Regions from separate parts of the Homo sapiens genome. Here region 2 is linked to region 1. A link means that fine-mapping ties the variant in region 1 to the expression of a gene that starts in the linked region. Tissue or cell type: skeletal muscle. Region 1 holds a variant in brackets; the other region holds the start of a gene. All regions are shown on one strand. Distances are from middle to middle.

Region 1 (10,843 bases):
CTATTCAGGAGACTGAGGCAGAAGAATCGCTTGAGTCCTGGAGGTGGAGGTTGCAGTGAGCCAAGATCCCACCACTGAACTCCAGTCTGGGTGACAGAGCAAGACTCTGTCTCAAAACACACACACACACACACACACACACACACACATACACACACACACAAAACATGGTAGTGGCCATGCGTGGCAGAGTTGATATGTGTTAACATCTTTTCACTTTCCCCTTGAGCACACAGCTAGGCTGCCTTTCCTAGCCTCCCCACTGCAATTAGAAAGGCCACATAGTTGTGTTCTGGCCAGTGAAATGGGATGTGTTTTAGTTCCTGCCAGACTTTCCTTGCTACTGACTCTCTTCCCTGTTTGCCATCTCAATGTCAATTCCCAGAGCAGTCTTGGGAGCCATGTGTGGAACGTGGTCAGACTTGCACCCAAATGATGCTTGGAGCTGAGCCCCCTCTCTGCCTACCTGCATCGGACGGAAGCATGAGCAAAATGCTAATCTTTATTGGGTTAACACACTGAGATTTGGGATTTATTTGTGACTGTAGTTAGTCTACTACTCCGTGAGCCATAAAGTCCTATACAGACATAAGAGATCAACACCTGGGGCAGTGCAAAAGCAGAACTGATAGGTCAGGCTGGCTTTTTAAGAATAGGCTTTGGATCTGAGAGAGGTCTTCTGCTCATACATACCTCTTCCCTCTATGTTCACTTGTACCACTGGGCCATTTGTTGGCAGTGCATCATAGAGCCAACATAGGAGTTAGAATGGGAGACCAAAGACTTTGTTAGCAATGAAAAGTAGGAACTAGATATGAGGGCATTGATGCATAGATGGAGGGTGGCAGACTAGGATAGCACAGAGGCCTGAGGTTGCTAAAGAGCTGGATTCAGAAGACAGGCAAGCAGGCGGAATTCAAGGAACACATGGATAATGTCAAGAAAAGAAATGAGGCACTTTGTCCCAAGGCAACAAACGTGCAAAAGCAAGTGGTCAGTATGAGCCAGGAGACTGGAAAAGATGGGTTCTGTATTAGTCAGGGTTCTTTAGAGGGACAGGACTAATAAGATAGATGGCTATATGAAAGGGAGTTTATTAAGGAATATTGACTCACGCGATCGTAAGGTGAAGTCCCACAATAGGTAGTCTGCAAGCTGAGGAGCAAGGAAGCCAGTCTGAGTTCCAAACCTCAAAAGTAGGGAAGCCGACAGTGCAGCATTCAGTCTGTGGCCAAAGGCCCGAGAGCCCCTGGCAAACCACTGGTATAGGTCCAAGAGTCCAAAAGTTGAAGAACTTGGAAGTCCAATGTTCGAGGGCAGGAAGCATCCAGCACAGGAGAAAGATGGAGGCCAGAAGACGTAGCTAGTCTAGTCTTTCCACGTATTGTTGCTTTTATCCTAGCCATGTTGGCAACTGATTAGAAGGTGCCCACCCAGATTGAGGGTGGGTCCACCTCTAGCAGTTCACTGACTCAAATGTTAATCTCCTTTGGCACCACCCTCACAGACACACCCAGGAACAATACTTTGCATCCTTTAATACAATCAAGTTGACACTTAATAATAACCATCACAGGTTCAAAGTCCAAGAACACTGTTCTTTGCTCCCATCTGAAATTCGAACCATTTTTCAGGACTTTATTCAAATGCTACCTTTTTAAATAAAACCCCCAACTAAATTAGGAGGTTTGAATCTGGAGTCCATGTGCCTGGGGGATGTAAGAATAAATTTCCAAAGAGTTCTTGAACTCTTTACACTTAAATGCAAAATCATGTGCCCATATTTTTAGGGATAGAATCTTTTCTTTTCATCAGCTTTTTAACGGGAGTCAATGAATAAAAACGTTTCAAAATATCTTCATTGGTTTTGTGAAGAAAGGCAAGTGTTTCTTCTTATCCATCACTTTACCCCTGCTTAGCACAATGCAGTTCAGTAAATGATCACTGAAAGAATATATGTGTCTTCCTCTGAGTCTCCAAGTTGAAATTTCTCTCTTGGTCATTGTGATTCTCAAATCACTTGGTTTAGAAACGTACAAAACGTTCTTCATAGTTGTTATACTAATTTACATTACCACCTACAGTGTCCAAGAGTTCCCTTTTCTCCACATACTTGCTAGCATTTATTATTGCCTGTTTTATGGATATAAGCCATATCCAAGACATTTGGGGTGAAATGATATCTCATTGTAGTTTATATTTGCATTTCTCTGATGCTAATGTTGAGCACATTTTCATATGTCTGTTTGCCATTTGTATGACTTCTTTTGAGAAATATCTATTCAAATATTTTGTCCATCTTTTGATCAGATTATTAGATTTTTTTCTATAGTGCTGTTTAATCTCCTTATATATTCTCGTTATTAATTCCTTGTCAGAAGGGTAGTTGCCAATATTTTCTTCCATTCTGTGGGTTGTCTCTTCACTTTGTTGATTGTAACTTTTGTGCAGAAGCTTTTTAACTTGACGTGATCCCATTTGTCCATATTTGCTTTGGTCCTTCCCACTCTTCCCTCCCTTTTCCAAAGGCAGAGGAGCCACCCCTGGCCACAAGGAGTACTGCCAGACTACCACTGATTTTCCCTTAAGTCTCAAGGTCTCTTAAGTCAGCTTGTGGTGAGTGCTGTCTGTCCTGGGACTCATCCTTCAGGGCAGTGCACTCCCCTCTGTCACAGGGCAGGTCCAGAAATGTCATTCAAGAGTAAACAGTCTTGACTTGCTGCTCTACACCCCTGTGGTGATGTTGGTACTTGAAGCCAGCAAGTCTCAGAGGCTCACCAAAACCCTTGATGTAGCATAGCACCTGGATATTACTGCTGGTTATTCAGAGCCCATGCTAGCAGGACTGGATCCCTTTCTTCAAATAGGTTCTCTTCTGGCCCAGGGTATATCTATAAATATCATCTGGCTGATAGGGCCTGGAATGGGAGCCTCTTGACTCTGACTGGTGCCATATCCTGCTGTGGCTAAGCTGGTATTTCAGGTGCAAGAAACGATCCTCCCCACTCTTCTCTCTACTCTCCTCAAGAGGAAGAAAAGGGTCTTTTTTGGAGCTGTGAGCTGTGCAGCCTGGGATTAGGGGAGGGGTGATGCCAGCACATTTTGCCTGCCAAAGCTGGTGTCACAGTATGTCATGTGGCCTTCTAATCCATTATCTCTAGGCCTAGTTAAGCCCTTGAACTCACCTAAGAGTTGCAGTGCTTATGGGCTAGAATGCCTTTCAAGTTTAGTTAGAGACTAAGAGCACTTTGGCCCTGGGTGGCAAGGTTTGCAGGCACTCAAGTTTGAACCACTGGGATTGGAAATTCCCCTCTGGCTAAGGCTGATTTGAATGCTCCCTCTGTGGGCAGGCATCAGCTGAGTTTGGTCTGGTTTTTCTTTTCTGCTCTAACAGAGCAGCACTGAGTTCAATGCTTCACAATTGCTGTGTTCTCCCTCCCCCAGTGCCCAGAGATACTCTCTGTACCAGGATTCCACTGCCAGAGATTGAGGAGGGGTGGCATCAGCAATTCAAGGCTGTTTTTTCTACCTTTTTGGTGCCTCTTTCAGTGATATGAAGCTAAAACCAGGTACTGAGTGCTCACCTTATTTTTGGTTCTTATAAAGGTGTGTTTTCTGAGTAGATAGCTGTTAATCTGATGTCCTTGCTGGGGGAACTATCAGTGAAGCTTTCTATTCCACCATATTCCTCTACCTCCCTTGAATTGGCTTCTTTATGATCATATAGATTGTAAGTTGAGTCAAATTCTTATCTGATTTTAAAAACTTTTATCATGTTCATATTATATTATATTACATTTGGCAGTATTATGTTATAATATGGTGCTGTAGTGTTGTGGGAATCAGAAGACCAGAGAGACCAATGGGTGGAACAGGAGGATTTTATTTAGGTGGCTACTGGCACAGCAGATTCACATCCAAAGGCTGAGCCCTGAACAAACACAGGGCTTGACTTTTATATACACTTCTGAAAGGGAATTGGCTAGTTTTAATGCAGTGGCAGGAAACTGAGGGCACAAAACCTGTGAGGCGGGCAGGCAGGCTTACAGAAGCAGAACAAAGGCAGTTAATCAAACTGTGACAGGTTTTGTAACCTAAGCATAGCTTGTGACCTTACAGCTGCATGGAAGGGAAAACAGGAACTTACAAAACTTGAGACACTGAGTAATGGTAAGGGGGAAGAGGAGATAGTAAAGGAATTTGTTTTTCTTATCCTTGCTCCAGGGAGGGGGAGGGGTTTGTTGGGAGAGTCTCCGGAGCTCATTCCTTTGGGCTCTGGCTTTCCAGATAGTGTTATTGAGACTTTGCCAGGGCCCTGCCTATTGCTGGCCTTGGAGTGAGTCAGCCAAGTATAGGAAAACTTGTTTTTCTCTTTTTAACTTCTGCTTCAATAGCTGTCCCTCAAGATTGTTGGATTGAACTGACTTGAACGGAACTGAATTGAATTTTCAGCATGGGCTGAATCATGGAATCAGCATGGGCTACCAGGCAGTCAGAAACCTTTGCTCAGGTCCAACCATCTCATGTTACAGGTGGGAAAATGGAAACATACAGTGGAGAGTGACTTGCCCAAATTCAGACAGCCAATAAATGGTTAAGCTGAGTTTCTTGCCTCCTGGATAAGTGTTCTTTCTTCCATTATGTTCTGTTCCCCTTTTATTTCCTTGGTTCATGCTGTACTGGAGTGAGATCAATGGGTCAACAAATACAGCTAAATCTCTATAAAAAATTATGCATGTCTTTACAGCATAATTTAGCTCATAACATTTTAAGATACATTTTGACAGCTGGTAATGATTATGGTTATTGATTAGACAATGCATTTTTATGCATCTAATTTTCTACATTTTTAATTTCAAATATTCTTTTAAAAACAGAAGTAGAAATGTGCCAGATCTTATGATAAGTGTAGGCTACTTAATTTGAAGCAATTGCAGTCCCTCATTAGTAATAAATTAAGTATTGAAGAGAGCAGATCACTTTAATGTGTCAAAAAGAGCCTTGTCACTTGACATAATTTGAGAAGTCAACATGTGCATTTTATAATGATCGTCCATATCCAGTATTTCTGATCTAGCTTACTCTCAGTTTCTATTACTCATGGGACTTACCCAAGACACTTGTTGAGTTACAAACAGAGCCAAATATAAAGAACAAAA[C/T]AGTATCATAACTTGAATCTAAGAATAGTTGGAATGATATTTAGAACTGATCCACATCATGGAACGAAGTGTACCACCAGAAGAAGCTGCATTTGGTTGTGACTGTTTCTGTTACTCCAACATGTCTCTTCAAACCAGACAATTAAAAAATCAATTGTTTTTGTACTGATTTTTACCAAAGCAGTTTCAGTGAAAAACAAATTTTTAAAAATCCTCAACCCTCAAAATACTAATTAAAAGTATCAGTTTAGTTGATTTTTCTTTTGAACATTTTTGACCTAAATGCTTATAAACAGTATCATTTTGTATCTTTTAGTAACTATGGGCAACTGTTGAGTGAGTTCAGTCAATGATTAAATTAGTCATAAAAAATGAGTTTTGATAACGAGAAACAAAAAAGATGGTGAATGGTGAATTTAAGATTAAACCAATATTGACTTGATATAAATACAACAAATCAAGTCTCTCACATCATAAAAGTGTTTGGCTTTCTGTGAGAAATTTACCAAATGCTTTTTTATGATATTTTTACCAAATTTAGAAAAACAGGGAGCGCCAAGCAATTATTTAGCAGAAAGGCTAATAGACATAAATATCATAACAGCATCTTGTAAATGATGAAACTATATCATCAAAAGGAAAAGACAGAAATGCAATATGAGTACAAATATTTATAGGCACAATCTGCCCATTTGACAAGTACTGACTGAGTACCTACTACTCTGAGCAAACCACCAGGACCAGTGGTACACAGGTTGGAAACCTGACTATGGCAGGAGGCACACAGTCCTGCCCTCCAGGAGCTTTCAGTCTGTAGTGGGGAGAGCAGTACAGCACTAGCTGGAATAAAAGGTGTTAAGAGAAAGGAGGGAAAACACAGAATGAGGTCAGGGAAGGGAGAGAACACAATTTCAGCAGAGGAGGTATTTGAAATTGCATAGTGAGTATCTAGAGCTGACACTCCAGTTGAAAAGACTGCCAGTCTCCTGGGCACACTACTCATTCTAATGTAGTGTGATCAGGTTGTGCCAGTGGTGTAAATGGAATAGAAGAAGATCTGGGAAGATGCTTAAAGACAGTCATATGTGAGCTGGACTTAAAAACTAATAAAATATAGTGCTAGAGAAGTAAGTAGGTGCCTAATCATTTAAGGTCTTAAACACCATTTTAAGATATTTGAATTTTGTCCTGTGAGCAATGGAGAACCATCAAAGGGTAGTTAGCAGAGGAGAGACTGGTCGTATTTGCATTTGAGAAAGAGCACCCTGGCTGGAATGTAGAAAATAGATTGGAGGGAAGGGGAACAGGCAAGAAGGCAGGAAAATTTATTGAACTAGTTTTTAAGTAGAAGATTATTATGAGAGCCTAAGAAGGTCGTGGTGAGACTGGAGAAAGTGGAATCTATTTGCCAGTAGAAGTGAAATGGAAATGATAAATCTTAGAGATATACTAGGTAGAACTGATTGGACAGGGTAAGTGACTGGATTTGAAGGTATAGGGAAAAAGGAGATAAAATTACCCACTCTGGTTTTAACTTGGCTGGCCACATAATGAGTAATAGCATTGTATTAACGTGTATAACACAGAAGGACTGCATTTCAGTGTGAGTGGTGGCAAGGGGAGGAAACCGGGAAGAAGAAAGTGAGAAACTGATCTAACTCTATGAGAGCAAGAAATACCTTATTTTTTCTTATTGCAGCTTCAGCGCCTAGCTCAACAAATACTAAAATGGTTTAACGAGAAAAATGAATTGTTTTCAAAGTGCCGTCGAAGGTATTTGAATCTATGAACAGAGCTGTAGACTGAAAAGAAAGTCCGTTTCATGCATTGACCTAGTACTTAGTGAGCATCTCCTATATGCCAGGGAGAATTCTAGGTATTGAGGATATATCAGTAAGCAAAACAGTGGCAATCCTATCTCCATAAACTTATATTCTAGTTAGGCGGGAAAGACAATAAACAAATAAACATGTAATATTTCAGTTGATGATAAATGCTACGAAGAATATAAAGCAGCATAATAGGGTTAGAAAGTGACAGGATGCTTTTAATATAAAGTCATCAGCGAAGGTCTCTCTGAGAAGGTGATATTTGAATTAAGACCTGAAAGAAAGGGAGTGGGACATGTGACTATTTGTGGGAACAATATTCCAGGTAGAGAAAATAGCAAAAATAACAATATCGTAAGGTAGTAGCATGCCTAATACCTTCAAGTTCAACGAATAACAAGGAGGTGAGTGTGACTTGAAGAAAGAGAGCAAGAGAAGGAGGTATAGAAGATGAGGTCAGAGAAACAAAGGACTGGATTAGGTAAATCTTTAAAAGCTGGTATAAAGACTTTGTTTTCTTTCTCTGAATGAGGGCGGTTCCCTTGGATGGTTTGGAACAGAGGAGTGACATAGTCTGACTTACTTTTTAACAGAATCACTTTGCTATATAGAGAGTAGTTTGTAGAAAGGCAAGAGTAGAAGCCAGTTAGCAGACTAGTTACACTAGTTAGAAGCCAGTTAGAAGACTCTGGAAGTCATCCAAGCAAGAGGTCATGATTGCACCAAGGTGGAAGCAATGGAGATGGTACGGTGAGAAGTGGCCAGATTAGATTCTGCTGTAGTTTTCTTGTTATTTTGATTTGATTTTTATTTCTTAAAGGTAGAAACTGACAGGAATTACTGAAGTATTGGTATGTGGTGTGGAATAAAAAGGGAGGCAAAGCTGACTCCCAAGCATTTGGCTTGAACAACTGAACAAAAATAAAGGAGCAGCCATTTGCTAAAATGGAGAAGAATGTAGATGGAGCGAGTTTTTGAGTAAAGTATTAGCAGTTTGGTATGGACATACTACATTTGAAATGCCTATTAGTGCATATGTGTAGTTGGCAGTTAAATATATGAATTTGTATTTCTGGTAAGAAGTCCAGAGAGGAGATAAAAATCTGGAAGTCTTCAGCATATAGATGATATTTATAGCCATGTGACTGGGTAAGATCACCCAGGAAATGAGTATAAATAGAGAAGAAAATAGATCCAGGACTAATCTTAGGAATTTCAATGTTTAGTGGTCTGGAAGATGGGGAAGGTGTAAGCAAAAGATACAGAACGAGAGAGACCAGTAAGGTAAGAAAAGAAAAAAGAATGAGTGGTGTCCTAGAACCACGTGAATCAGTATTTTACAAAGAAGAGAGTGATCAACTTTTCAAATGCTCCAGACAGGTCGGATGAGAGGAGGACCGAAGATCAAGCTTTATATTGGCAACTAGGTAGTAACTTGTGACCTTGACAACAGCTGTTCAGTGGTGTGGCGTGCTTCAGATGAAAACATGATCATGGTGGGTTCTAGAGAAAATGGAAAGAAAGAAAATGGAGATGGTAAGTGGAGACAAGTATTTCTGAGTATTGATATCCAGGAGAGTACTGATGTACCTAGAAATGTATCTACCTGGTCAGAAAGGGAGTGGGGTGCAGATCGCATAGAGTCTTGCAGGCCTTTGTGTTTTACTCTTAGAGATATAAGGAATCATAATTCTGGAACAGAATGCTGAGAAACTCCCATATTTAGAGGCCTGGAAAAGATGACAGAGAGTGAGTAAGATGCTTTTAATGAGGTAGAAAGAAAAATAAGAAAACATGCAAGCAGAAGCCAGGACAGGAGAGAAGCGAATGGTCAGCGATGTCAAATGGTGCTTTGAATTCAAGCAGGATGAAGATAGGCTTGGCAAAATGTATGCTGTGATTTTCCTTATGAGAGCTGTTTCAGATGTTTCAATGTGATGGAAGGGAAAGATGTGATATTGTAGTGGGGTGAGGAGAGTTGAGAAGATCCAAGAGTAATAGTAACCAGACACATTGATCTAGGACATATACTAAAGAGGAAACTCGTGTGTGTGTGTGTGTGTGTGTCTGTGTGTGTGTGTGTGTACTGAACATAAAATGATAATAGTTCCTTTAAAAAATCACTAGCAGGGAGTGACATTTTAAACATTTAAATATTGGGCTTAAGGGAACTGAGAATGCTGATAAAAGAAGATTTGAATAAATTACCAATATAATTCTAACTTGTATAAAGGTACAAAATTGTATAAAGGATTAAAACGTAGAATAGTGACTGAGTTTGAAAAGTAAGTGCAATTCAGACCTTAATGTCTTCGGAGCTAAAATTAGTGCTTAATTACAATAATTATATCTTTCCCTTTTCCTGGTACAATTATCTTCCCCATCTCTCTTTGGTTTTTGAGGCCTTCTTGATATTTAAGCCACTCTATCAATGTATTTTTACTGTGAGCTTCCTCACAGTCAGTCTGTGGGAAATAGGCAACTACAAATAATATTTAAATGCACCTTAAGAGCTAGTATTGATGCAGAAATATTGTAGAGGAAATTACCCTAACTTGTGTCTCTACCTTATAAGAATGATTCTTGGGGTGTTTTATAGAGGAGCGTTTGATAAGGGTGAAGCTGGCCAGGAGGTAAAAAACTGAGAATTTTAACAGTGTCCTTCAACTGAGACAGACTGATGCCCTACGAGCTAGCCTGTCAAGGGTAAGAAAATCTCTGTGGGCAGTGATCAAAGCAGCCATATACCGGGCTGCTGAATAAATATGAACTATTCTTCTCTTGGGTTTTCTCTCTACATTTTCCCCTAAATTTCTTACAGACTCCTTCCCTTCTATCAACATGTTTCTCTTTGACTGAGGTTTGACTACAATACATGAGCAATTACAATGACCCAGGTATTTGGTAAAGCTAAAACAATAGCTTGTCAACAACAGGAGTCAAACTCTGTAAAATATTTGAAGAGATTTATCCTAGGCCAAATATGAGTGACCATGGCCTGTGACACAGCCCACAGGAGGTCCCAAGAATATCTGCTCAAAGGAATTGGGGTGCAGCTTGGTTTTACACATTTTAGGGAGGCATGAAACATCATTCCCTAAAGTGATTCTGAGACATCAATCAAATACATTTGAAAAATACATGGGTTTGGTCCAGAAAGGTGGGACAATTCGAGCGGAGTGGTGGGGAGGGGGTTCCAGGCAATAGGTAAATTTAAACATTTTCTGGTTTATAAATGGTTGAGTTTGTCTGGAATTAATGGAAAGGAAATGTTCAGGTTAAGATAAAAGATTGTGGAGACCAAGGTTCTTTTGAAGTCTCATAGTGGTTGCCCTTAGAGACAATAGATGACAAATGTTTTTTCTATTCAGACCTTTAAAAGGTGCTAAACTCTCAATTAATGTCTTCAGGATTGGGAGAGCCTGGAAGAAAAAGATCTAGCTATATCAATAGAGAATTTTTACAGATGCAAATTTTCCCCCACAATGGATGGTCTTGCAGGCCCATTTCAAAACACGGCAAAGAAACATGTTTTGGGTAAAATATTTTGATTTTCTTCTTTGTCAAATAATGTTATGCCAGAGTCAGATTGGAAAGTAAGTCATGATATATAGGGTTAAATAAAACCCATCTGATGATAGTTAATCATTGGTAGGGTATGACTCCCCAGACCCCTTAGATAGGAATTTGGGCAAGATAAAAAAGATAGAAATAAAAAAAAAGAATCAGAGCTTAGTCCTCAGCTTATGTTGAGTGGAATGCTCACTCAAAGTACTTTAATACTATTTAATATTCAGAGAAAACCTCTTTGGCAGTGTGAAAGGAAAATAAATCTGGGACCCCAAACTCACTAAG
Region 2 (10,843 bases), 54 kb after region 1:
GAATGAGAACTTTCAGTTTGTGGAGCTTATTGAAGGCTCCTCGTTCAATATACTTGATTAAATTGTAGTCAGCCTGGAGATACTCCAAGTTCTCTATGCCAAGGAAAGTGTCAGCTCGGAGAATCTTTAATTCATTGTTGTTCAAGTGCAACTGCTTTAATGCACTGAGCCCAAGAAAGGCTCCTCCCTCAATGTTCTGCAGTTTATTATTCCCCAGATGCAGGGAGACTGCATGTGAAAAATTCAAGAATGTATTTGGATACAGAATATTTAAAAAATTATTTTGGAAATTGAGGTGATAAAAATTAGACCAAGGTGGTTTCAGCTGATTTGGTCTGTAGACTGAAACCTTCTCACAGTTGACATAGAGCACATTCTCAACTGACACGCAGGAACACACATTGCAAATTTCCACCGATATGTCAGAATCTGCATTTGTCGAAGAAATCAGGGCTGACAAAATCAGAAACAGCCACAGAAACATCTTCTTGCAATCAGCAAACAACTGTATGCTTCTGAATAAAGAGAAATAATCTAAAAAATAAAAAGAAAACATTTTTTCAATGGTCATTACTTGAAAAATTACTTGTATGTAAATCATACCATAGTGAACACATGGCTATAATTACCAGAGTTGTATTTGTAAGGCAATCAAACCTCCAAATAGTCTCACTCAGTCGAACAATAATAACCACTAAAACTGCCATACATTTTATTTTCCATACCTGTGGTTTATACCAAATTCACATGTGCAGAACACACAACTAACAGTAGGAAAATATATTATCAATCATGCTTAAATCTTGCAATCTGAAAATATTTTTTCCACGTGGACCGTCAAACTCTGCCCTTGAACACAGGCCTTAAGCTTCCTACTTGCACTTCAAATGACCGAGACCATCAAGTATGCCATCGAGTTTGTACCACAAAGCCATTTTGATTAGTGGATATCTATTCTCTAAGCTTCAGCTAGATAGAGAGGCTGAATTAAAAAAACAAAAACAAAAACATTAGAGCCCAGAGTTCACTGGAGGATGGAAATGGGAGGATTGGGCTGCTGTAGCAGGGACTGTTAAAAGACTAAGGAACAGTGACCTGGGAAGAGATTTGCTTGTGCTGTAGCCCCATAGGTAAGTTCATTGCTGTCAATCGGTTTACTCCTGTACACTGCTGCCTTCAAAGACACAGACGACGCTGTGCGGTTCTAGAAAAACAACTGAGTAAGGGATGGCCAAATTTTATTTTCTGGTAAATAAACAGTCTCTAATTTCCTGTCAGTCATCTCCCAAAGAGGGAGCAAAAAGCCTTTTGTCTTGGAGCCTCTGAAAGCAGCAGAGTAACCTGCTTACTCCTGCATTGCTTAGCTAATCTCCAGGCAGTCTTTCCACTTTGAGAACTGGCTCTCTTGCCTCCCTGGCCCTCTCCCACATCTTTATTTACCATTTTGAACCCAGGTCCGACTGATCCTCGGCTTAACTGCTTTATCTCTTTCACTTTGACCACAGACTGCAACTGCTGAGGAAGGGGAGTTCACACAACACAATCTTTGAGTAGCTTTTGCTACAGCACCAAATATGTTCAGTACAGCACATTTTTCGTCCTAAAATCATCAGTTCCAAACACCCACCCGCCCTTCCTAATATTACCACCCCATGTCCCTGACTGTAAACGCATAAAGAATCACTTGTTGGTAGAGTTTAATGCTTAGCAAAATAACTCATCGTTTTCAGGTCCTTAAATACTGCATATATACACAAACATACACGATGCTTCCTGGAAAAGATTAAACAACACAAGCAGAGTGCATTTTATTGATACTATTTTAGCAATATTAGTCTTTTCCATTGTGAATGGGAAGCTGGGTGCAATTTCAATATCGTTATCTCCAAATATTAATTAAATACATAAAATACCCAGGAACACACAACAAGGAAATGATGCAAAGAAAGAAGTGTCGCACAGAAACTCCTTTGTTTATTTTACCCACGAGGAATCAGCTAGTGGTAAAACCGAACATGTCTCAAGGTAGACAACCCATTAGCCATGACCCAGGAGGATTTGCATTTTAAGTAGTTTGGTTCAGAATACAGCCAGCACTGCTGAGATGCTATTTGGCTGCCATATAGACGTGCATTTCCCCTATTCACCATGAGAGCATGATTGGCATTGCAAAAAGAAGTCATAATTCTTAACTATGACATCACCTAAAGCAACTTTCATTGTAAAATCAAAATTTCACTTGATATTTTTTGCCTTGTTATGAATGTGGTTTTCAACAGCTATTTTGGTTCAGTTGAGTCATTTCTTGTTACTAAACCACCACCCCACCCACCTCAAAACAAAGAAACCCAAAAGCAACCAAACTAAAAACCAAACGCAGAAAAAAAAAAATCCTTATAATCCGAATTCAGTACAAAAACAAGAACCAGGAATCTCAACACATCTGAAAATGCATAAGGAGCTGCCCTCCTCCTGGTGATTGCTACTTTAAGTAGCAAGGGGGGGAAAAGGCACTAGTAAGAGCCAGGAAGTTCCCAAATGCAGCTCTTGTGAAACAGAGGAAGCCACAAGCAGCTGGAGGGGCAGGCAAGAGAGAGAAAGAGTCCAGTTGGTCCACCAAGGAGAGAGGAAAAGAGGTACTGAAAGGGCAAGAGACCATGGAAATGTGGAGAAAGGAAGAAAAAGAACTCGGAGAAGGGAGCTACAAAGAGGGTAAAGGGAGCACTGAATGTATGCGAATAAAGCCTCACACTCCGGTGGTACCACTGAAACATGCACATTTAAACATCAAGGGAAAAACGCAAAAAAGAAAAGAAAAAGCCCACAAAGTACCAGCTGGGTACCAAGAGCCTTCTCTGTGGCTGCTGGGAGCTGTCCGTCTTCCTCTCGGTGCCCTGAAAGACCCTTGGCTCTCACGACCAGCCAGGACTGAACAAACCTAGCCCGACCAAAAACAAATCCTGCATCCACCGGAGTGCAGCGCCTGGCACTCCGCGACTGGGAGGAGAGAAGCGGCCTGAGGGGGGCAGAACACTGATGGGCTTCAGGGCGGTGGGCCGAGGTGGCTCCCCGAGAGCTCCCTCGGGAAACCCCGCTGGCCCGCCTAAGGCTCGGATGGAGGTGGAAGAGGTTCGCGGAGAGACCCGGCCATTGCCGCCCGGGTGCGCTACCTCGGGCGGGCGGCGAGGAGGCTGGAGGGGCTGCTAGCGCGTACCGCAATGTTTTGCCGCATCCCTGTTCCCGGAGCCGGCCGCTCAGCCCCCTCCGCGTCAGGGGCCCAAGCAGCAGCCTGGCGGTCCGTGTAGCGGAGGCGGGGTACCGCGCGGGATGTCGCGGGGGCCTTCAGTCCCGCCGCTCACACATTTCTCCGCGCGCTCCCGTCCCACAAGGGGCAGCTGCCGGAGTTTCAGTGGACCTCTCTAGACCCAGGCGTGCGGTGGGTGAGGAGGAAGAGAGGCCAGATCAGGCCGCCTCGAAGACGTTGGCACTAGGGAGTCACTGACCTGCTTGCCACGGGCAGAGTGACCCTGTGGTTTTGTGGCTGCGAGCGGCGGCCCAGGCTCCCCCTTGCCTGTTCTCCCTCCCTGGCCAGCTACAAAAATCCTGCTCTCACCATGCCAGAAATCAGCTCAACATTTAGGCCCCTTGCAAAGTCGCGCTGGCAGCGCTCGCCTGGCTTTGCAGAGCTTTTAGAGTTACCCACCGGCTCTTCCTCTGGTATTCCTAGTCTTGCCGAGCGCTAGCAATCTCCGACCAACCCGCGGGCCACTGCCCCGAGCCTCAGATCCACGTCTGCGGAAAGTGGCTGCGAGTGGGGTGCAAAAATAAAGCCCAACCCAGCCCAGCGGCCCGACAGCCGGAGCCACCCGAGACCTGTACAACTTGCCCCGCCGCCCTGGCCGCTTGGGGTATGGTGGGGGGGGGGGCGGGCAGCGATGCCAAGGACACCCGGATCCTTTCCGGTCCTCAGCGGCATGAGACCGCGTCGTAGGCAGGCAAGTGGGAGGTGGAGGGCAGGATTAGCCACCTCGGCCACTTTGGCCACTCAACCGGCCCCAAACCAACAGGACCCAAACTAAAAATAATAAGCTACCTGCCCCCTCGGCTCGCGTGCGCGCGCGCGAGATCTCTCTCTCTCTCTCTGTCTCTCTCTCACACACACACACGCACGCACACGCGCTACTGAGCTGAGCGGGGAAGAGGCAGCACGCGTGTCGGTGCAGCTTGTGCAGCCCCCGCTGAAAATTCACCCACCTCTAGAGCCCAGCGTCTGGTGCAGGGCCCGCGGCGCCGTGACCTGCGCTGCTGTTTCCACGATGGTATCTATGTGATTCCGGACAGAGCTCCTCCGCGCCCGCTCGCCCGTCAAACCCACGGAGCAGCCCCAGCAGGCGAGCAGGCGGGCCGGCGGGCAGGCGGGCAGCGGCGCGCGCGCGCACCCGAGCAGACACCGCGCGCGCACCCAGCGCCTAGCACACGGGCTGCACCTTTACATACACGCGCTGAATCCCCGCCCCCGCTCTCCACCACCCCCCCCCACCCCGCACACAAGCAGTCCTTCCTCCCGACACTCGACCACTTTGACCCCCTCACATTCCTGAGCTCCTACCCCCGTCCCCCATCCAGACATGCCCATTTGATTCCTCTTCTACCCACACACCCAGAAAGACAGCGCGCTTTCCTCCCGGCATCCGCCCCCTCTTTTTGCCTAAAACATTCCCTAGGGAGGAGCGACCCCTTTCCTCAGGCGTGGAGACCCCAGTCCTCTAACAAGGGCGCACTCGCCTCCATCCCCCCCACCACATACACACACACTCGAGCCCTTTTCTTCTCTTCCAGTCCCCTAATAACGAAGGAACACACACACACACACACACACACACACACACACACACACACACACACGGGGCATTCCTTTGAGAGAGCAACCAAGAAGCCAGGAAAAGCCAAAGAAACACTGGAGAGCCTGGGGGAGGGGGGCCGAGGGAGATCGATAGGGTCGTCGAGTCTACGCGGAATTGAATAATTACAGGATGGAGGGGAATGAGTCAACAACAATGACATTCAAATGCAACAATCATACTTGGATTTTGTATCACGGGTACGGTACCTTTGGCTAATTGTCACCCCGCAGAACGGAGGGCTCCTGGAATACTTCTCCGTGGCGGTCGATCCTGGAAGGAGCCTTCTTGGGAACCAATTTCCTAGGATCCAGTAGTATTCGCACTCCCCCTACCTGTCTGCGCGTAAGGGGCCAGGGGCTTTAAGGCGAAAGTGTGAGGCTTTAGCCTAAAGTGAGACTATTTAGCCGGGTTAGAAGGAGACGGGTTAATTATCCGCACCTTAGAACTCCGTGGGCCTTTGGTGCAGAATGGGTTAAGCCGGATGATCTTGGAGCTGGGGGTGGGGATAGGGGATAGGGGATAGGGGTTGAGGAAAGAGAGGCGTGGGACTGGGAGAGATGCCGCACTTGCGACCAAAAGAAAAAAAAAAAAAAAAACTACTTTGGCTACTGAGCATGCCCAGTTCCCAGCTCAAGCCCTATAAGGGAGGCATTGTGTGCATTCCACTTCTCCGGGCTTTGGTGGTGACCGGGAGGGGAGTTTGACTGGGGAAGGGGGTGGTAGTTGGGAGACATTAGGGAAAGGGGGTTGGAGAACAAGGTTTGAAGCTTTGGGACTGCTCAGGAGGGACTGTGAAGAGAGAAAGGGAAGGGACCCACGGAGTACCTTCGGGAGACGGGGAGAAGGAGAGGAAATGGACTAAGAAAAGTCACTTCAGTCGCCCCTCATTGTGTATACCAAAGAGGCTTTAGCAGCTGAATCTGAAATATCCAGTGGCTGCAAATCCAACGTGTGGATTGTCTAGGCCCCTTCTTCTACCCTTTTTGTTAGTGCTTCCACAAGAGATAAGAAATATTCTGAGGAAGGGCCAATGTTCAAACCAGTTTCATGCAAATTGATAATTTCGTTAATAAGCTTGTTAAGAAAATAAATAAACCTGGGGGAGGGGAGCAGAGAGGAGTTGGCTATCATGTATGTATTTCAGATACCTGGCTTTCCTAAACAAAAGGCATAAACATTGGATGTGCTCCCATCCCCCAACCTTGCTGTTTTTTGTAGGAGCTTGGCTAAGAAAAACAACTCTCTCTCTCTTCGTGTCTGTGGGAATAAACTAGCTTTAGGTAAGTAGAGCTAAGTTATAAATGGGAAGTATTTCCCTAGGACTCTTGGTAGCCTATTATTTGCCACATTCAGGTAATACTGCCAGGCCCATTTCTTCAGGACCAGTGTGTTGCCCAATTTACTTATTCAAATCCCAGCGGCTCTAGCCACAATAGAGCACAACCGGTATCCAGAAATGTTCTTGCTTAAAAATGAAAAAAAAAATCTTTAAGCTAAAACTAGCAACAGCTTTGAAACCAGAATTTGGCTGTCTGCCTGAACTCCTACAGTTAAACATTTACCATAATTGGTTGATGTTTAAAGGCCCCAAATCTAGGTAGAAACATCTGATGGGCAAAGGATTTATTACATTATTTGTGAATAATGGTCTACCTTCTGTATCATCTATAGTAGTCATTCATATACATGTTTCATTGTTTTTCATTTTTTGTCATTTTATGGGACTTCCGTCAGGTTATATTCACACAAATGTTCACCGGGCACAACATGTATACAGAGATGCACGTACAATATGTAAATGAATACTTAAATAGATATGCGTGTATGGGCATATTTCTTTATGACCTTGCTAAATATTGTGTCGTTCATGAAGAACTCTTTCTCTACCTTCACTCCACATTGCCTTGAAAACTGTAATCATCCTCTCTTTTACAAACAACCTAGAGACAGAAATTGGGCAGCATTGGTAAAATTTATCTTATTCAATGTGAAATCCATTATGAAATAGCATTAAGGAAACACTAAAATATTTGTCTATAACAGCGTATGTAATTGTGCAGCTCCTTTTAGCAAAGTGAATGATGTTTCCTTCATAGGTAACAGCTGCAGAATGTTGAAAAATCCCTCTACTCTTGCACACTTGGACAAAACAGATCCTGCTAATTAATAACTCACATTTGCATTTTATTGTGTAATGCAGTTTGAAAGTAGTAATGGGTATCAAAACAAGTTGGCATTTATTCTAAATGCTAACAATTCAGGAAGCTGAATATATTTTATCCAGATAGGTGAAATGTTTGTCTTTTACTACAAATGTTAACAAGAGTCAATAGAATGAGCAAAAAAAGTTTACCTGAAAATTCTAAGTAATGTGATAACTGAAAAGGCCAGATTTGGACAGTAAATATCAGATGATTTAAATGCCTATCTTTATTCAACTTTAGAAACTGTTCTGAGACTTGGCTATATTTAACTGCAATAACTGTGAAATGTTATTTTTCATATGGATATGGAGACAAATCTGAAAGCCACTGTAGCTAGATCATCGATAAATTACAATTCATAATATTCCTAAGAACTTATCTGTGATTAATATTCAACTTTTTTAAATGAATGCTTTAAAATAAAATGTTTTGCTACTTAAAAAGATAAAGTGGACACTCATAAAATAAAACAGAAGTAACAACTTCCATGTTTTATGCTTATTTTGCTTTCAAAGTAATTAACCCAATCCTTTAGTCCCACAGTCCCTTTTCCGTCCCCTAGAACTACAGGTGACATCCCAATAGAACAGTAGGAAATGACACAGAATTGCTAGCTTAACAAAGGAAGTGAATATATACATAAATAAAAGTGTTAAGAAAACTCCAGCACTATTTATGGCCATTGAAAGAAAAACAAAATTGATGTTCTTCCTAAAATGTAAGCATGCAAATATTGTGAGTTTTGCAATACTCTCACGGTCTTCCTCCAAATGTTTTACCTTATTTCATCTTGACTTTTTAGGAGTACAACCAGAATCGTAGGTCTACACTGATATACTGTGTCTCCCTCCATCAGGGAAAAAAACAACTGCACTAAGAATTTCAACAAGATCCTGTATACCCTCCGTTCCGAAGGCAGTTTGGAATTAAGTCATTAAAACACTACCAACCGAAAGTGATTATAATGCCAAGTCTTGGCCCTAGTCAGCGGTCTTTCACTTTCACTGTATTCCTCATTTATCTTGCCTTGTCTTAGGCTGCTGCTCAAAATCAAATCAGCCTTAATTTTCGTATCCAGGTATCACAGATGATTCAGTGTATTTTAATATTGAAGATTTATTTATATTCTGGCATTTTAACAGTTACAAACTTGCTATTTCTCTTTCATTTTTATTTATTTATTTTTGAGACAGAGTCTCACTCTGTCACCCAGGCTGGAGTGCGTTAGTGTGATCTCGGCTCACTGCAACCTCTGCCTCCTGGGTTCAAGCAATTCTCCTCCCTCAGCCACCTGAGTGGCTGGGATTACAGGCATGTGCCACCATGCCCGGTTAATTTTTGTATTTTTAGTAGAGATGGAGTTTCACCATGTTGTCCAGGCTGTTCTCAATCTTCTGACCTCAGGTGATCCGCCCATCTCGGCCTCCTAAAGTTCTGGGATTACAGGCGTGTGCCACCGTGTCCGGTCACACACTTGCTATTTCTCTAAGTGGAATACAAGAAAGTTCTTAGGATGTTAATATATCTTCTGGGAAGAAATGTTTCCATGATCAAATAAGTTTAAAAGACCCTTGGTTCCGTAAAGCTAAACATTTTATTTTTACTTTGGGATTTTTCAACACAATTAATTATGTTTAAATGAGCTTTTATTTACCAAGGGAAAAGGGATATGGCATGTGGCATTTCACAGACTTACTTAACAATGGAACCCTTTTTTCTATCTATATAATTTGAAAAACATACTAATAGCCCATTTTTACAAATTTTCTGGAATTTAGAACATGAAAGGAAGTTTTCAGATCATAATTAACCCATTCAATAGTAGCTACTGTCTGTTGAGTGCCTCTTCTTTGCTGTGCTGCCTACAAATATTATTTCATTTAGTTCTATGAACAAGGAAGGGATTATCATACTTATTTTAAAAATGAGGTTAAGTGACCAGGCATGGTGGCCCATTCCTGTAATCCCAGCACTTTGGGAGGCTGAGGTGGGGAGATCACTTGAGCCCAGGATTTCAAAACCAGCCTGGGCAACATGGGAAAAATCGTCTCTACAACAAATACAAAAATCAGTGGTGCATGGTGGCACATGCTTGTAGCCCCAGCTGCTTGGAAGGCTGAGGCGGGAGGATCACTTGAGCCCAGGAGGTCAAGGCTGCCATCAGCTGTGGCCATGCCACTGCGCTGCAGCCCAGCCAACAGACTGAGACTCTCTCAAAATAAAATAAAATAAAATAAAATAAAATAAAATAAAATAAAATTCAGGGAAGGTAAACAGTTTGCCCGAGGTCACATGGTGAGTAAGTGATGGTCAAGATTTGACCCCAGATCTTTGAGGTTTTTCCAGTACACCACATTTTCGTTTTCACAGGGGGATTAGGGAATTTTTAACTTTGAAAGCAGAATAGACTTGAAAGCTGGGCAGGGTGACTTAACGCCTGTATTCTCAGCACATTGGGATGCCAAGACAAACAGTCTGGGCAGCAAGGTGAAAAGCCATCTCTTTAAAAAATAAATTTAAAAAAATAGCCAGGCATCGTGGGGTGCACCTGTAGTCCCAGGTACTAGGGAGGCTGAGGTGGGAGGATCGCTCAAGCTTAGGAGGTCAAGGCTGCAGTGAGCCATCATCAAGCCACTGCACTCTAGCCTGAGCGACAGAGTGACCCTGTCTCAAAAAAAGAGAAAGGGATAGATTTGAAAGCAGAATAAATTTTCCAAAGATGAATACTTGAGACATAAATGTTTTCAAGTATTAAAGTATGAATACTCAGCACAGGAATAAACAAATAAATGACATTAAAAACAGTTCACATCAATTATGCATGACAAGGTCTCTTGAATCAACTGATTTTACCTTTTGCCAGTAGTAGCCTTGTTCTATCCATTCTGCTCTTTCAACTCTCATACCTGAGTTGATTCTGAATCTGTGATGATGTCTCAAATGTTCCTTATTAGGGATAATCACTTTCACTATCACCAAATGAAGCCATGTGTATTAGTCAGTGTTCTCTAGAGGGACAGAACTAATATATATACACACACACACACACACACACACACACACACATATATATATACACACACTTATATATTTTATATATACATATATATATATATATATATATATATATATATATATATATATATGGGAGTTTATTAAGTAGTATTAACTCACATGATCGCAAGGTCCCCCATTAGGCTGTCTGCAAGCTGAGGAGCAAGGAATCCAGTCTGAGTCGCAAGGCTAAAGAACTTGGAGTCTGATGTTCAAGGGCAGGAAGCATCCAGCATGGGAGGAAGATGTAGGCTGGGAGGCTAAGCCAGTCTCACCTTTTTACATTTTCCTGCCTACTTTACATTCCCTGGCAGCTGATTAGATGGTGCCCACCCACATTAAGGGTGGGTCTGCCTTTCCCAGCCCCCTGACTCAAATGTTAATCTCCTTTGGCAACACCCTCACAGACACATCCAGGATCGATACTTTGCATCCTTTAATCCAATCAAGTTGACGCTCATTATTAACCACCACACCAAGCAAAGCAGTAGTGTTCATCCCTAGACTTATTCCAGTTAAGACAAAAGGATTGTTATAAAATAGGATACCAAATGAATTGGAAAATGTGAGACTAGTTGATTATTTGATTAGGTTATATCAATTAACCTGACCTTCCATTTTGCTCAGACTTCTTTATAGTACAGCTGGTAACCTGGTGTCCTTTTCAGAAACTCAGGCATC

Which allele goes with the higher level. Positions count from the first base shown, and alleles are read on the strand shown. Sizes are in standard deviations (SD) of each study's normalised expression.
For the expression in skeletal muscle of the gene that starts at base 5,477 in region 2, allele T in region 1 goes with a lower level than allele C (moderate effect, 0.63 SD a copy in GTEx).

What was found. PIP is the estimated chance that this variant, and not a neighbour inherited with it, causes the effect.
Region 2: it holds the start of SLITRK4, and the variant in region 1 is fine-mapped to the expression of SLITRK4 in skeletal muscle (GTEx, PIP above 0.99).

The regions. Positions count from the first base shown.
Region 1 is chrX:143,576,328-143,587,170 of GRCh38, forward strand. No RefSeq gene overlaps it. Among named protein-coding and RNA genes, the nearest start is that of SLITRK4, 54 kb to the right of the region's middle. The variant C/T (reference allele first, on the strand shown) is at 5,160.
Region 2 is chrX:143,630,625-143,641,467 of GRCh38, forward strand. SLITRK4 (SLIT and NTRK like family member 4) reads right to left here and starts at 5,477. Exons shown (of 2, transcript NM_001184749.3): 1 at 5,111-5,477; 2 at 1-534. The coding sequence starts at 484.